2 separate regions of the Homo sapiens genome follow, and region 2 is linked to region 1. Evidence: fine-mapped expression QTL. Tissue or cell type: whole blood. Region 1 holds a variant in brackets; the other region holds the start of a gene. All regions are shown on one strand. Distances are between the middles of the regions.

Evidence for each region. PIP is the estimated chance that this variant, and not a neighbour inherited with it, causes the effect.
Region 2: SNX21 starts here. The variant in region 1 is fine-mapped to the expression of SNX21 in whole blood (TOPMed, PIP above 0.99).

What each region holds. Positions count from the first base shown.
Region 1 is chr20:45,856,864-45,864,965 of GRCh38, forward strand. ACOT8 (acyl-CoA thioesterase 8) reads right to left here and starts at 529. Exons shown (of 6, transcript NM_005469.4): 1 at 325-529. The coding sequence starts at 452. ZSWIM3 (zinc finger SWIM-type containing 3) reads left to right here and starts at 751. Exons shown (of 2, transcript NM_080752.4): 1 at 751-1,117. The coding sequence starts at 963. The variant G/A (reference allele first, on the strand shown) is at 3,972.
Region 2 is chr20:45,829,840-45,837,941 of GRCh38, forward strand. It overlaps SNX21 (sorting nexin family member 21), which reads left to right and starts at 3,960. Exons shown (of 4, transcript NM_033421.4): 1 at 3,960-4,101; 2 at 4,362-4,629; 3 at 5,120-5,277. The coding sequence starts at 4,081. It also overlaps a transcript of TNNC2 not described here. RefSeq lists silencers at 4,004-4,313, 4,334-4,453, 4,494-4,543.

The DNA.
Region 1 (8,102 bases):
ATCCATCAGCTGTGTGCCCTTGGGCAAATCACTGCCCTCTCTGGGCTAGCTCCCCCGTGAAGGCTTAGGGCAGGCTGCCGAGCAGGGTCTCTCAGGTCACCACTATATTTGCTCAGCTGTGCAGACCTCGCAGCGCGGAGAGGAAGGGAGGAAGCCAGAGCAGAGAGGACAGCTCTGTTGGGGGCGAGTTCTCTCCTAATCGTGGCAGAGGGTGCATCCCACGCAGAGCCATACTAGTCCCGGAGCCAGGGGCCCCGGGCGGCGGCAGTCAAGATCAAGTTTCTGCCCTAAAGGAGGGGATGCTGGGCAGGAGCTGCCGGCTACCTGAAGAGATCCTCGTCCAGCGGCTCGAGGTTGAGCACGGTCGTGACCAAGACGCTACGGAGGTCCCCAGGGGGATCGCCGCGGTCGCCACAGCCCTGCCCATCTTCTGGGGCCTGCGGGGACGACATCTAGTTCAATGCTGCAGGCCCTGCACACCCGCTCCGCGGAAGACGCGGAGACATACACAGAACCTGACTCTTCCGGCAGATTGCCCTAGTAACCGGAAGTCTCCTGCAGACCCCGGGAAGGAGGAATCTAGGTTATGATTGGTCAGGACTCCTGTCAGTCCGCTGGTGGCTGTGGCCCTCTTTCTCTAGCAATTGGAGAAAATGAATGCCAATCTGCGAATCCTGTGTGTGACTGGATATGTCGCTGAGGAGGCGGAACCTCGGGACTGGATAATATGGACTGAGTGTCATTTCCCCTGTCAGATAGCAAATACACCCCCTTCCTCTTGTAACCCGGTCAGGCCTAGGGTTCCTCCCTGAGTTCCAGAATAGGCCACCCAGTTGGGGCGGACCCTTAAGGCATTCTGGGCCCACGCCTGCCTATAAACCCTCATAGTGTGACCTTTGACCCCTGGTGTGATCTTGGGCCCGGGCTGGGACCAGCCCCTAGTGTGGGTTGTGGGGGCGGCCATGGAGCTGGGCAGCTGCTTCAAGACCTATGAGGACTTCAAGGAGTGCTTCAGCGCCTACAAAAGGGAGAACAGGTGCTCCTTCATTCTCAGGGACTGCGTCTCCGTCCGCTTCCACAACCTCAACCATGGCACCTCCATCCGCGAAGACATCCTGTAAGGGCGGGCGGGGCGGGGCGGGCCAAGAGGGTGGGGAGGAGGCTGGACCTCCGGAGGGCTGCCTGGAGGAGGAGGGGTGCATAGGCACGCATTGGGCTGCGTGGCCATTCATTCAACAGGCACTCATTGAGCACCTGCTGTGTGCCTTGTGAAGAGAGCTAAGCCTCCACGGCCATTGGTTTTTGACCACCCACTCCACTTTCACTCCATTCACAGGCTTTTCTGGAATTTATAACTGCAGTTTCTCCCATTGTTTTGAGCAGCTGCAGCAACCCAAATACAAAGTATGGCTTTCATAAACGGATAAAAACACCTTGGCGATAATTTCCTTCATCAGTCTCCTCTTTACAAAACAGTCACATGGTCGTTGGAATGTTCGTTCATTCATTCATTCAGTTTTTAGTTCTTATATATTTGTTGAAACAGGGTCTCACTCTGTCCCCCAGGCTGGAGTGCAGTGGCACAATCAGCTCACTGAGCCTTCAACTGCTGGGCTCAAGCGATCCTCCCACCTCAGCCTCTCAAGTAGTTGGAACTGGAGGTGCACGCCACCATGCCTGGCTAATTATTTGATTTTGTACAGACTGGGTCTTGTTATGTTGGCTAGGCTGTTCCCAGACTCCTGGACTAAGCGATCTTTCGGCGTCTCAAAGTGTTAGGATTACAGGCATGAGCCACTATGCCTGGTCTATTCATTCATTTTGTAAATGGTTTTTGAGCTCCTTATATTAACCGTTTTCAAACACTTTCCATGTGCCAGGCAGTGTTCTCTATGCATGCTTTACCCTGCAGGGCTTTTTTTTCAGAATTATAGATAAATGTTATTTTTTTGCATTTGACAGATGAGAAGATTTGACAGATGAGAAGTCAGGCTTAGAGGTTAAGACAGGAGTTGAAAACTCAAATGCCTTCAGGGATTAGGTGAAACAACCCAATGTAAGAAAGTTTTAACTTTGAATTTTACTTTAAGAAAAAGAATGATGAAATAGCAACCAACACCAGGTCTTTGTGCTAGGGACAACAGAAGTGTGAAATGGGCCAAATGGAGAGTAGATGCCATCTAATCAGCTCCAGCTGATGGCTGCCATATGAAAATAAAGATCTAGTGTTGCCAGAATTTTGGGCAAGAGTTGTCAGAAATCCACACTTTATGTGGATTTTCCCATTTAAAAAAATTGAATCAGTTCAAATTTTAACTCAGAGCATGCGGGCCAACTCAGAGTTAAAGCATATCCGAGTTTGAGACTTGGATTGAGATGCTCAACCAAAGCTCCTCAATTAGACAGCCAGGCTATATTCTTTCCACTGTTCTGAAGTCCAGTGCTATGCTGGGTATAGGTGACATAAAGATGAATAAGTGTTCAAACTATCCCCAGAGAACTAGGATAAACTTGAACTCAAGCAAACTGGTGTGTGATAAATGCTTTAAAAGGAATGTGGAAAAAAAAAAAAAAAAAGAAATGTACGGAGAAAGAAATGAATGACAAATGCCTGGGAGGTGGGGGAAGTCTTCACACTGGAATTGATGGTTTCCCTGGGCTGTGAATGAATGTAGAGTGCTAGAGTAGATCTGTGGTTAATTACTGAGTACCATGGAGGCATTTGACCAGAAGTTGCTGTGCAGAAGGACCTACAGGAGCAAAGACAAAGATACATGAAAGAAGGTTGGCATGTTAGAGTAACAGTGAGGGATACCATGTTTGGCAGGAGATGAAGTCATTTGCAGTCTAAGGGTCTTTAGGGACCATTGTGAGGTGTTTGGACCTTGTCCTTTATGGGTAGGACCTTGCTAAGCAATGAGAGGAATACAAAAAAAAAAAAAAAAAAAAAAAACCACAGTTGCCCGTAAACACCCTTCAGGAAGACCATCTCAGGTGGCTAGCACAAGGTGTGGCCCATAGCAGGCATTAAATAATTATTGAATGAGTGAGTTATCAAGTACTAACCATGTGATTCAGGGAAATAGGTGCTGCGGGAACTCAGAAGAGAAAAATCACTGCGAGCTAGAGACGTAAGAGTGAAAGGGAGGCTTGAGCTGGGCCCCCAAAGATGGAGAGCTGTCAGAAGGTGTATTGGTTTTCTGTTTGCCACTCTAGTGAATTACCACAAGTTTAATGGTGCAAAGCAACACAAATTTATTATCTTAGAGTTATTTAGGTTAGAAGTCAGGCACAGGTCTTAGCAGGCTAAATCAAGATGTCTGCAGGGCTGTATTTCTTTCTGGAGTCCCTGGGTAAGAATCCATTTCCCGCCGGGTGCAGTGGCTGATGCCTGTAATCCCAGCACTTTGGGAGGCCAAGGTGGGCAGATCACTTGAGGTCAGCAGTTCAAGACCATCCTGGCCAACATGGTGAAACCCCGTCTCTACTAAAAATACAAAAATTAGCTAGGCGAGGTGGCACATGCCCGTAATCCCAGCTACTCAGGAGGCTGAGGCAGCAGAATTGCAGCCGGGAGGTGGAGGTTGCAGTGAGCCAAGATCGTGCCATTGCACTCCAGCCTCGGCAACAGAGCGAGACTCCATCTCAAAAAAAAAAAAAAAAAAAAAAAAAGAATCCTTTTCCTTTCCTTTTCCACCTCCTAGAGGCTGCCCAACACACCTTGGGTCATGGCCCCCTTCCTCCATCTTCAAAGCCAGCAGTAGCAGGTTGAGTCATCACATCACTCTGACCTTGCTTCTGTCATCACGTCTCTGACTCCCTCTTCTGCCTCCCTCTTCCACTTTTAAGGATCCTTGTGATTATATTGGGCCCACCCAGATAATCCCAGATAATTTCCCTATTTTGAAGTCAGCTGATAGCCACCTTAATTCTATCTGCAACCTTAATTCTCCTTTGCCATGTAACCTAAC[G/A]TATTCACAGAGTCTAGGATTAGGACAAGGACATCTTCAAGGGACCATTCTGCCTGCCACAAGAAGATTAATAACCTGGAGGTAAAAATGGTGTGAGTCAGTACAGACGTAAACATGACGTGCTTCTATTAGAAAACAGTGATGGGCTGGGCACGGTGGCTCACACTTGTAATCCTAATACTTTGGGAGGCTAAGACAGGGAGATTGCTTGAAATGAAGAGTTTGAGACCAGCCCAGACTATAATCCTGGGCAACAAAATGAGATCCCCGTCTCCACAAAACAAAATTTAAAATTAGGGGCCAGGTTGTGGCAGCTCACACGTATAATTCCAGCACTTTGGTAGGCTGAGGCAGGCAGATGGCTTGAGGCCAGGCATTCTAGACCAGCCTGGGCAACATGCCAAAACCTCATCTGTACAAAAAATACAAAAAGTAGCCAGGCATAGTGGTGTGTGCCTGTAGTACCAGCTACTCTGGAGGCTGCGGCAGGAGGATTGCTTGATCCCAGGAGTCAGAGGTTGCAGTGAGCTATGATCGCACCACTGCACACTACATTTTAGCCTGGGCAACAACAGAGTAAGATCCTGTCTCTAAAAAAAAAAAAAAAAGCAAGCAGTGATGTATGTTTGCACGCACATACAAAAGCCATGAGGAGACCTGCTTAGCTAGAAGGAAGGATTTATGCTGGAGCAGCAGGAAAGGAAATTGGAGGGTTGATAAGCAGGTTGGTGGGTTGGGATTTGTTTTGTTTGTTTTAGGAGACAAGGTCTCGCTCTATTGCCCAGGCTAGAGTACAGTGGGAGGGTCATAGTTTACTGTAACCTTGAAATCCTGGCCTCAAGTAATCTTACTACCTCAGCCTCCTAAGTAGCTAGGACTACAGGTATGCACCCCCATGCCAGGCTAATTTTTTTTTTTCAATTTTTTGTGTAGAGACAGGGTCTTGCCATGTTGCCCAGGCTGGTCTTGAACTCCTAGGCTCAAGCTGTCCTCCTGCCTCAGCCTCCCAAAGTGTTGGGATTACAGATATGAACCACCATGCTGGACCTGTTTTTGTTTTTGAAGGTGAACAATTTTAAAAGTGTTTTTGGGCCAGGCACAATTCAATCACTTGAACCCAGGAGGCGGAGGTTGCAGTGAGTCAAGATCATGCCACTACACTCCAGCCTGGGCGACACAGCGAGACTCTGTCTCAAAATAAATAAATAAAAAGTGTTTTTGTGTTTGAGTGGTTAACATAATTAAAAATATTTTCAAAAAGTACAGAAGGGACTAAAAGGGTCACCTCCACTGCATTAGCTTTTGGTTTTTTTTGGTTTTTTTTTTTTTTGAGAGATGGAGTTTCGCTCTGTCGCCAGGCTGGAGTGCAGTGGCGCGATCTTGGCTCCCCGCAACCTTTGACTCCCTGGTTCAAGCGATTCTCCTGCCTCAGCCTCCCAAGTAGCTGAGATTACAGGCACGCACCACCCCACCCAGCTAATTTTTGTATTTTTAGTAGAGACAGGGTTTCACCATGTTTGCGAGGAAGGTCTCAATCTCCTGACCCGGTGATCCACCCGCCTCAGCCTCCCCTGCTGGGATTACAGATGTGAGCCACCGTGCCCAGTCTGCATTATCTTTTTTATCTATTTATTTATTTCATTTTTATTTATTTACTTACTTACTTACTTATTTTGAGATGGAGTCTTGCTCTGTCACCCAGGCTGGAGTGCAGTGGTGCAATCTTGGCTCACTGCAACCTCTGCCTCCCGGGTTCAAGTGATTCTCCTGTCTCAGCCTCCCAAGGAGCTGAGACTACAGGCATGCACCACCACGCCTGGCTAATTGTTGTATTTTTAGTAGAGACAGGGTTTTGCCATGTTGGCTAGGCTGGTGTTGAACTCCTGACCTCAAGTTATACACCCATCTCAGCCTTCCAAAGGGCTGCGATTACAGCTGTGAGGTGCCACGCCCAGCCTATGTATTTATTTATTTTTATTTTTGTAGAGGTGAGGTCTCACTATGTTGCCCAAACTGATATTGAACTCCTAGGCTCAAGTGATCCTCCCTCCTCGGCCTTGGAAAGTGCTAGGATTACAGGCATGAGCCACTGTGCCTGGCCCACTGCATTATTATATAGAGGCAATCAGCGTTACCTTCCTGAGAGATACTGAGGCTGAACAAACATGTCTTGTATATGCATTTGCATCTTTTTGTTGTTTTAACACAAGTGGCAGCATGCTATTTAGACATAGCCTTCTGTACCTGCTGTACCTGGCTCTTCTCACTTACCAATATATCTTGGAAATTATGCCACCGTATGGGCAATTTGATTTGACTTTCATTGATTTCCTTGTTTTTTTTTTTGTTTGTTTGTTTGTTTTTTTGTTTGTTTTTTGCAGTTGTTAACTAAAAAGTTACTCCATGCTGGTGTCTGGAGATACGTTGTTGAAAAATATAAATTGAATCTCTGCTCTTGTGGAGACAAATACTAATCTATAATCACAGAAATAATAATTTCCTTAAAGTGGTAGTAGAGCTCCAAAGGAAAAACCCAGGGTGCCCTGTGGAGGGGTGATGGTGACACTTATTCTGATTGTCAGGAACAGGGTGGGGGTGCTGGTTGACACCCTAAACCAATGCAGGCTCTTGCTCAGAAAAAACTGTCAGCCCTGAGATTTTGCAGATACTTTACAAAGCACATTCACCTTTATTACCTGACCTGGTTCTCTGAATAACCTTGTCAGAGGCAAATTTTGCTGTTCCCACTAAATTAGTTAATACATGTAAAGTGCTTACAGCAGTGCCTTGTAGATGGAAAATAGTCCACAAATATTGTATTGTTTTACAGATGGGGAGACAGAGCCAGGAGAAGTCAAACATTAAGAGACAAATAGTTTAGGGCCAGGCGCAGTGGCTCATGCCTGTAATCCCAGCACTTTGGGAGACCAGGGCAGACAGATCACCTGAGGTCAGGAGTTCGAGACCAGCCAGGCCAACATGGTGAAACCCTTTCTCTACTAAAAATAAAAAAATTAGCCAGGCATGGTGGTACGTGCCTGTAATCCCAGCTACTCAGGAGGCTGAGGCAGGAGAATCACTTTAACCCAGGAAGAGGAGGCTGCAGTGAGCTGAGATGGCACCACTGCACTCCAGCCTGAGCAGCAGAGCGAGACTCTGTCTCAAAACAACAGCATAAATAACTGAAAATTAGACCCAGCCTATTTACTGACAGAGCTCTTAATTGTTGTACTTAGCCACTGGGCTCTAATAGTTTTCTAATGTCACTTGTCCATTTTTCCCTCAACAAACTTGTGGTAAGAGGCTAAGTGTTTACCATGGGCCAGGAGTACAAAGATGAGCTGGAGTACAAAGATGAGGAAATTGTAGGCTCCACCCCTGAGGACAATAGCGGACTGAGATAGCTTAGGAGGCGGTGAATTCATGAGCAGCACAGGTCTTTAGCAGAAACAAGTTGACTGCTGGTTGTGATGTTATAAAGGACATTCTTGGATCATTTATTGCAAACTGGCTCTGTGCAGAGCTCACTGTCTTGGGCTTTTTGAGTGATACGTGGGTGTCTTGGGGGACTGGAGGGTTGGTGGGGGAAATGTTTTTAGGAGGTAATTTAGTACATGTTTCTGCAGCCAAATACACATATTACTGGGTGGTCAGGTGAGATGATATTAATACTTATGTGAAAATGTAGACATAAAGTTCCTTGATAAGCAAAGTAAAGCAAGTGAACTAATTTAAAGAAAACCATTTACAGCTGGATGTTGCTCACGCCTATAATCCCAACACTTTGGGAGGTCGAGGCGGGCGGATCACTTAAAGTCGGGAGTTTGAGACCAGCCTGCCCGACATGGTGAAACCAACTCTACTAAAAATACATAAATTAGCCAGGCACGGTGATGGGCATCTATAATCCCAGCTACTCAGGGGGCTGAGGCAGGAGGATCCCTTGAACCCGAGAGGCGGAGGCTGCAGTGAGCTGAGATCACGCCACTGCACTCCAGCCTGGGTGACAGAGTGAGACTCCATCTCAAAAAAATTTTTGAAAATAATGGTGCAGGGCCGGGCGTGGTGGCTCACGCCTGTAATCCCAGCACTTTGGGAGGCCCAGGTGGGTGGATCATGAGGTCAGGAGAT
Region 2 (8,102 bases), 27 kb before region 1:
CAAGTGATCCGCCTGCCTCAGCCTCCTAAAGTGCTAGGATTACAGGCATGAGCCCCTGAGCCCAGCCTTTGTTCTTTTGTTTATTCAAGGGATTAGGTAAGGCCCAAATTGCTTAATGTAGCCAAGCAAGGTCCCATTGGCCCTTCTAATCTCACTCCTTCCCTCCACATCATGTTGCTGTCTGCTCTGATCAGACTTTAAAATACTGCTCTAGGCTGGGCACGGTGGCTCATGCCTGTAATCCCAGCATTTTGGGAGGTGCAGGCTGGCAGATCACGAGGTCAGGAGTTCGAGACCATCCTGGCCAGCATGGTGAAACCCTGTCTCTACTAAAAATACAAAAAATTGCTGCTGGGTGTGGTGGTGGGCGCCTGTAGTCCCAGCTACTTGGGAAGCTGAGGCAGAAGAATCACTTGAACCTGGCAGGCGAAGGTTGCACTGAGCCAAGATCATGCCACTGCTCTCCAGCCTGGGCGACAAAAGGAGACTGCATCTCAAAAAAAAAAAAAAAAAAAAAAAGACTACTCTAAACACCACCTTCTATGAACCTTCAAGCCTTTGCACATGCTGTTTTTTTCTGCCAGAAACTCCCATCTTTCCTCTCTTCATCTGTCTACTTCCCTATCATCTTTCTAAGCTCTAACATCACTTCCTCGGGGATCCTTCCCCCACTGTGTCCAGACCAGGGAGTCCAAGGTGGTCTCTAGTAGTTTCCTCAATCATAGCACTGAGCATACCTTATGCTCACAACCCATTCTATGTTCTACAGATCATCACATTTCCCAGTGCTCAGCACTTGCTATGTAGCAGGTGTTCAACAGATATTATATTCTACATAAGAATAACTGAACTGGATGGTATTTAGTTCAATATAAGGGGGAACTTCCTAATAGTCATAGTTGAACAATAATGGGAACAGGTGGCCTCAGGAGGTAATGAGCTCCGTATCACTGAGTATACCCAAACAGGAGCTAGATGACCATTTCTCAGGGAGGCTGTAGGGAGATATCCATACAGAATTTAAGAATGGGGGCAGTGGCTCACACTTTTAATCCTAGCACATTGGGAAGCTGAGGCAGGTGGATCTCTTGAGCCCAGGAGTTCAATACCAGCCTGGGCAACATGGCGAGACGCTGTCTCCAATTAAAAAATTAAAATAAAACAAAGAATGGTGGGTGGTAGCTCATACTTGTAATCCCAGCACATTGGGAGGCAGAGGTAGGAGGATCTCTTCAGGCCAAGAGTTCAAGATCAGCCTGGGCAACATGCAACCCCACCTTTACAAAAAATAAAATACTAGCCAGGCATGGTGGGCACATATCTGTAGTCCCAGATACTTGGGAGGCTGAGGTGGGAGAATCACTTGAGCCCAGGAGTTTGAGGCTGCAGTGAGCTATGATCGCACCCCTGCACTCCAGCCTCACAACAGAGTGAGACTCTGTCTCTGAAAGAAGAGGCCGGGCACGGTGGCTCATGTCTCTAATCCCAGCACTTTGGGAGGCTGAGGCAGGTGGATCATTTGAGGTCAGCAGTTCGAGACCAGCCTGGCCAACATGGTGAAACCCCATCTCTACTAAAAATACAAAAATTAGCCGGGTGTGGTGGCACATGCCTGTAATTCCAGCTACTTGGGATTACTTGTAATTCCAGCTACTTGGGATTACTTGAGGCAGGAAAATCGCTTGAACCCAGGAGATGGAGGTTGTAGTGAGCCAAGAGTGTGCCATTGGACTCCAGCCTGGGTGATGGAGTAAGACTCTGTCTCAAAAAAAATAAAATAAATAAAAATAAATAAAAAAGGAAGAAGAAGCAGGAGGAGGAAGAAGGAAGCAAAAAGAAGAAGAAATAATAATAGTGGAGAATGCGCAACCTTCAGATCTCCTAGTTCTGACTGTTTATATGACCCAGCATAAGCCCTTCCCCTCACTAAGCCTCAGACTACCTATCTGTAAAATGGAGGTGATAGGCCAGATTTCTGAGGGGCCCTCCTGCTCTAACAACCCATGGTTTCATGAAGACCAGCTTTGTGCCCAGACATGTAAGGCATATACCGAAGGACAAGTTATTTTTTAACCAATGGTTGGTGAATGAGTGAGTGTTGAATTAATGAATGAAGTATGCCTTTTTTGTCCCAATATCTTGCCCATAAGCCAAATGAAGAGTAATTCGAGGTTTGAAATTGTGCAAACTGGCCAGGCACAGTGGCTCACGCCTGTAATCCCAGCACTTTGGGAGGTAGAGGCAGGTGGATCACTTGAGGCCAGGTGTTCCAGATCAGCCTGGCCAATATGGTGAAACCCCACCTCTACTAAAAATACAAAAATTAGCCGCATGGTGGCACATGCCTGTAGTCCCAGCCACTCAGGAGGCTGAGGCAGGAGAATTGCTTGAACCTGGGAGGCAGAGGTTACAGTGAGCCAAGATTGCATCACTGTACTCCAGCCTGGGCGACAGAGCAAGACTCTGTCTCCCTCTCTAAAAATAAATAAATAAATAAATAAAATTGCACAAACTTAGGCTTAAAATCCCAGCCCCTCTATTTCCCAGATGTGGATCTTGGGGAAGTCACTTTGCCTCAGTTTCTTCATCTTGAAAATGGACCATTAATGTCCAGTTACAGCCTCTTCCCCAGGACGCTGTGAGGGAGAGATGTGACAGTAAAGTGCCTAGAGCAGGATGTAGAAAGTGGACCCTCAGAAAATAAGAACCCCAGCCTTTCTGCTCACATGGGAGGGCAGGGAGCTGAAATACCTTCTGCTTATCCCAAGGCATTTTCCCCCACCCTTCTCTCCTGTGCCACTCAGAAAGGGTAGGAGCTACTTTGGAGAGATTTTGATTTTATTTATTGTATTGTATAACTATCAAAATCTGCCCTAACAACTGATACCTAGGCTTTGTGACAGGAAGCCACAATAACTTTTTCTTGACCTGCAGCTGCCCTGCGGATAAAAGATAAAACAAAGCTGGGGAGCCACTGAGATTATCAGGCCTGCTGCACAGGAAAAGGGCAGTATGCAGCAGGGGACCTGGGCTCCAGGCCCCATACTCAGAAACCTCTGAGGGAGGCAGAGGCAGGTGGATCACTTGAGCCCAGGAATTCGAGACCAGCCTGGGCAACATGGCCAAATCCCATCTCTACAAAAAATACAAAAATTAGCTGGGTGTGGTGGCGAACGCCTCTATTCCTAGCTACTGGGGAGGCTGAGGTGGGAGGGATGACCTGAGCCCAGGGAGGCGGAGGTTGCAGTAAGCAGAGATGGTGCCACTGCACTCCAGCCTAGGTGACAGAGTGAGACTCCATCTCAAAAGAGAAAGAAAGAAAGAAAGAGAGAGAGAGAAAGAAAGAAAGAGAGAGAGAGAAAGAAAGAAAGAAACCTCTGGCAAGCTGTGTGGTTAAGCCAAGTAACTCACCCTCTCTGGTCCTCAGTTTCCCTGTTTGCCTACTTCCCATGTGTGAGGTTCAAATCAGATTGTGCAAGCCTGTGAACACTGTAGAAACAATAATCATTATGTAAGTGATCATTTCGTCAGCCTTTGCTCTATGCCAGGCACGGGACGAGCGTTCTTACAAGAGCTGCAAAATTAGTTTTAGCAGTATTGTTCCTGTTTTACATATGAGAAAACCTAGGCTCAGCGAGGTCAGATTCCAACCAACCCAAATCACGCATCTTCTCCTGGCCCTTCGTTTTCTCTCGGGAGACATGGCCTCCCTACTATTGCATAATTACTTTGTGAAGTTAAAGAGCGTTGGGTGGAAATGAGTGGGACAGATTGGAGATGACGTGGGTGGGGTGGGAGGATTCAAGGAGGGTACGCGCCTGGCCGGACTGGGATGACTCTGCGGCAGGCCTGGGACTCCCTCAGGCCGACCCAGGCTTCCCAAGTCCCTCCTGGAGCCAAGGGCCCGGGATTCTCGGGCGGCTCGGGCGAGCGGGCGGGGCAGGAGGCGGGGCGGCGGCAGGAAGCTGCCCGAGCGGCGCTCTGAGCGGCCTGAGCCCGGCGGAGCCCTGCAGAACCCGGCCGACCTCCATGGGCTGCGGGGGGCTGCACCCGGACCCCTGGGGCGCGGCGCGCCCCTGAATGCACCGTGGGACGCAGGAGGTAGAGGCGCACGAGGCGGCGCAAGAGACATCGGGAGGGTCCTGAGCCCCTCCGGGGAGGAACGCGGTCCTAGGCTGAGTGGGTTGGGGGGAAAGCGATGCTGGCTGGGTCCCCTGGTTCGCAAGACCTCGGACTGCCAGGGGGTGGGGCCTCACCGCGCCCCTCCCTCTCCGGTTCGGGCCCCGCCCCTCCTCCTCCTGCGCCGGGCTGGGGTACCCCTCCTCCGGGATCCGGTACACAGCGTCGCGCGCTCCCCCCAGGGTGCCATGGCCTCCCGGCTCCTGCACCGGCTGCGGCACGCCTTGGCCGGCGACGGCCCCGGGGAGGCGGCGGCCAGTCCAGAGGCCGAGCAGTTTCCGGAGAGCTCAGAGCTGGAGGACGACGACGCCGAGGGCCTGTCCTCCCGACTCAGCGGCACCCTCAGCTTCACCAGCGCCGAGGACGACGAGGACGACGAGGACGAGGACGACGAGGAGGCTGGCCCTGACCAGCTGCCCCTCGGGGATGGGACGTCAGGAGAAGACGCAGGCGAGTGCAGGAGGACGGAGGCGGGAACCCTGGGGCTCGATTAGGCCTCCATCCCAGCCGCGTTCCCAGAGCATCCAGGGCGCTAAGTTGATCCAGCTGAAACTCCCACACTTCTTAAAGCGCCTGGGCCACCTCTTGGCTGTGTGACCTTGAGAGAGTCTTAACCCCCCTCTGAGCCAAGTTTTCCCTTGTGTCAAGTGGGAGAACTCACTCTCATCTCAGAATTGCTGCAGGCATTAAATGTACAGGGCTTGGGATCCGAATGGAAATGATGTATTAACGATATTTTGAGGGTGGAGCTATTAATTTAGCCCCTACTGTCTGCCAGGCACGGTGTTTGGCTCCTCGGTGCCTCTCTGTCCCTCAGTTTCCATTTCTGTAAAAAGGGGGTAAGTCCTGCCTCACACTGGGAGGATGAGTGAGGCCACGTCAGTGGTTGATGTCGACCCTGGCCCTAGGCCCATTGATATGACTGGTCATGTGTCTGCAGAACGGAGCCCCCCACCTGATGGGCAGTGGGGCAGTCAGCTCCTGGCGCGGCAGCTGCAGGATTTCTGGAAGAAGTCCCGGAACACCTTGGCACCCCAGCGGCTGCTCTTCGAAGTGACCAGCGCTAACGTTGTCAAGGACCCGCCCTCCAAGTACGTGGTGAGTGAGGGTCTAGAACCCCTGGGCTGTGAGTCCAGAAGTATGGCTAGGAGCAAGTAGGGAAGACCCCAACTTCCTGAGGGGTCTATGTAGTTATAAATGGTTACCTTGTTTACAAATGGGGAAACTGAGGTCAGAAAGGGGATGTAACTTGAGCAAATCCTCACACAAGACTTAGTTTCCTTGAGACTGACTGAAGTGGGGATTAAGGACCTTCCTCTTAACCTGGTTTTGAGACTAAGAGAACTGGTGTGTGCACTTCCCCACCCAGCCCACAAGGTTTTTGCAAATTGTAGCAAGATGTGAGATACAGAGAGACAGATGTTATCTGGGTCAAACTTGAGATCCAAGTTGCATGGGCTGGTAGTTAAGGAAATAGGCTTTCGATCCAGACCAATCTTGACTCCCACTTATTTCCAGTTGTTTGACTCTGGGTGAGTTGTTTAACCTTGGTCATCTTCCGTTTCCTCATTATAGCAATGGGGAAAATGCAGAAGATTACAGCAGGAGTTAAATGAGACAATGGACAAAAAGCCCTTAGCAGTGTGCCTGGCATTATGACGTGGTCAATGAAATGGTAGCTATGTCATCATTATTTAACTTTGGGTTGAAAATGTTTGTCATCTAGGGCCTGCTGTGTCCTTATAACGCACAGGTCAATCAGTTCTCAAGCACCCGACCTTGTCCCTAAGGGCTAGACTTAGAGGGTTGGTGGAGGTTAGGATGAAGAGCAATGTTGGGGAGGACCTTGGAGTCCCTTGCTGTTTTCCTTGCTGTTGAGAGACTGACTTGGAGAATGAGGTCTGCTCCTTTAATGCCCACAGCGACTCCTGCTCCAGTCCCTTTTCAGGCCAGGCCTGAAAGCCAGCTGAGCTGGCCACTCCTGTCAGTGGCAGCTCTCCATCTCTCACTCCCCTCCTCTTCACCACCCTTCTCCACCTCTGACTCAGCAGGAGGGGGCCTGGAGCCCAGTCCCACATCTGGGCCTCTCCACCCTTTTCTGTTGCTGTTAGTAAGCAAGGGCCACACCCATGGGGTGACTACTCCAATTTCAGCAGGGACCGACTCCGATTATTGAGTCTTTTAAAAAAATTTTTGAGGCCGGGCGTGGTGGCTCACGCCTGTAATCCCAGCACTTTGGGAAGCCGAGGCGGGCGGATCACGAGGTCACGAGACCATCCTGGATAACACGGTGAAACCCCGTCTCTACTAAAAATACAAAAAAATAGCCGGGCATGGTGGCAGGCGCCTGTAGTCCCAGTTACTTGGGAGGCTGAGGCAGGAGAATGGCGTGAACCCAGGAGGCAGAGTTTGCAGTGAGCCGAGATCGAGCCACTGCAGTCCGGCCTGGGCAACAGAGCGAGACTCCGTCTCAAAAAAAAAAAAAAAAAAAAAAAAAAATTTTGAGACAGGGTCTCGTTCTGTCACTCAGGCTGGAGTGCAGTGGTGCAGTCATAACTCACTACAACCTCCAACTGGGCTCAAGCTATCCTCCCACCTCAGCCTCCCAAGTAGCTAGGACTACAGCTGTGCACCACCACGTGTGGCCAATGATGAAGTCTGAAGTGGCAAAGGTCTCAGAACTCTGGGTTCATACACTGGAAGGGGACACCAAGGAATAGTTCAGAGGCTGAGAGGAATGGGGGTGACTGTGGGTACCTGGATGGGAAGGGATGACAAGATAGAGCAGGATGGCCAAGTATGCCCCGGCCTGTGTCTGGAGAAGCAAGGCACCTCCTGTGTACAATGGGGACCCTAATTCCCCACTCAACTTGTGGGGGTGAAGAGCACAGGCTTTGGAATCAGATCAACCTGAGTTTAAATCCCAGCTGGGCTGTTTTCCAGCTGTGTGACTTACGGCAAGTCTTTGAGCCCTTTTCCCCCTCTTTGAGCCTGCTTCCTCAGCTGTCAGAGATAAGGACCTTCCTTGCAGTGCTGTTGTGATGATTAAATGAAATCACAGATGTAAAGAGTGCTTGGTACAACAGGAGGCACAGGGTAAATGCTTGGGTAATGGAACTACTGTCATTATCACCCATCTGGCTGCATGTTACAAGGTCAATGAGATAATGGATACAAAATGTAAACTAGATGAACATAAAGGCTTATTATATAGACCAGTGTGTCCTGAAGAAAACTGGTGTCCTAAAGTGTGTCCTGCAGAAAACTAGTTCCCTGGAATGTTAATAGCTGTTTCTAAATAAAGGTTTTGCAGGCAATATGTTTTGAGAATGCAGAGTTAAATGAGAATACAATAAGTTTCTTTATTGTTAAAGTATTTAATCCCTAATAGTGATATACACTGTGAATCTTCAAGAGGACAGAGTAAGCAAACCTAACTGACCAGGAGTGGCTAGAGTATTGTCAGTTCCACAGAACAAATGTGAGAGAAAGATCTGGATTTGGTGTTAGGGTGCCTTTAACATCTAACACTGGTTAACTCTCCTTTTAAACCTGTTGGCTTGGCATTATAGGTTAATCCATATTCAGGTTCTCAGACCTGGGAGGCGGGGAACTTCGTGATCATCTTGTTCAGTGTTTTCCAAACCTCAGTCATTCCAATACCTCCCTGATTCTTGTCCTATCTAAAAATGCCACTTGTGTCCTTTTCTTCTTAACATTTTTCTTTAAATGAACCTATTTTTTTTTCTTTATCTTTTTTTTTTTCTTTTTTGAGACAGAGTCTTGCTCTGTTGCCCAGGCTGGAGTGCAGTGGTGCAATCTCAGCTCACTGCAACCTCCACCTCCTAGGTTCAAGCAATCCTCCCGCCTCAGCCTCCTGAGTAGCTAGGATTACAGGTGCCCACCACCATGCCTGGCTAACT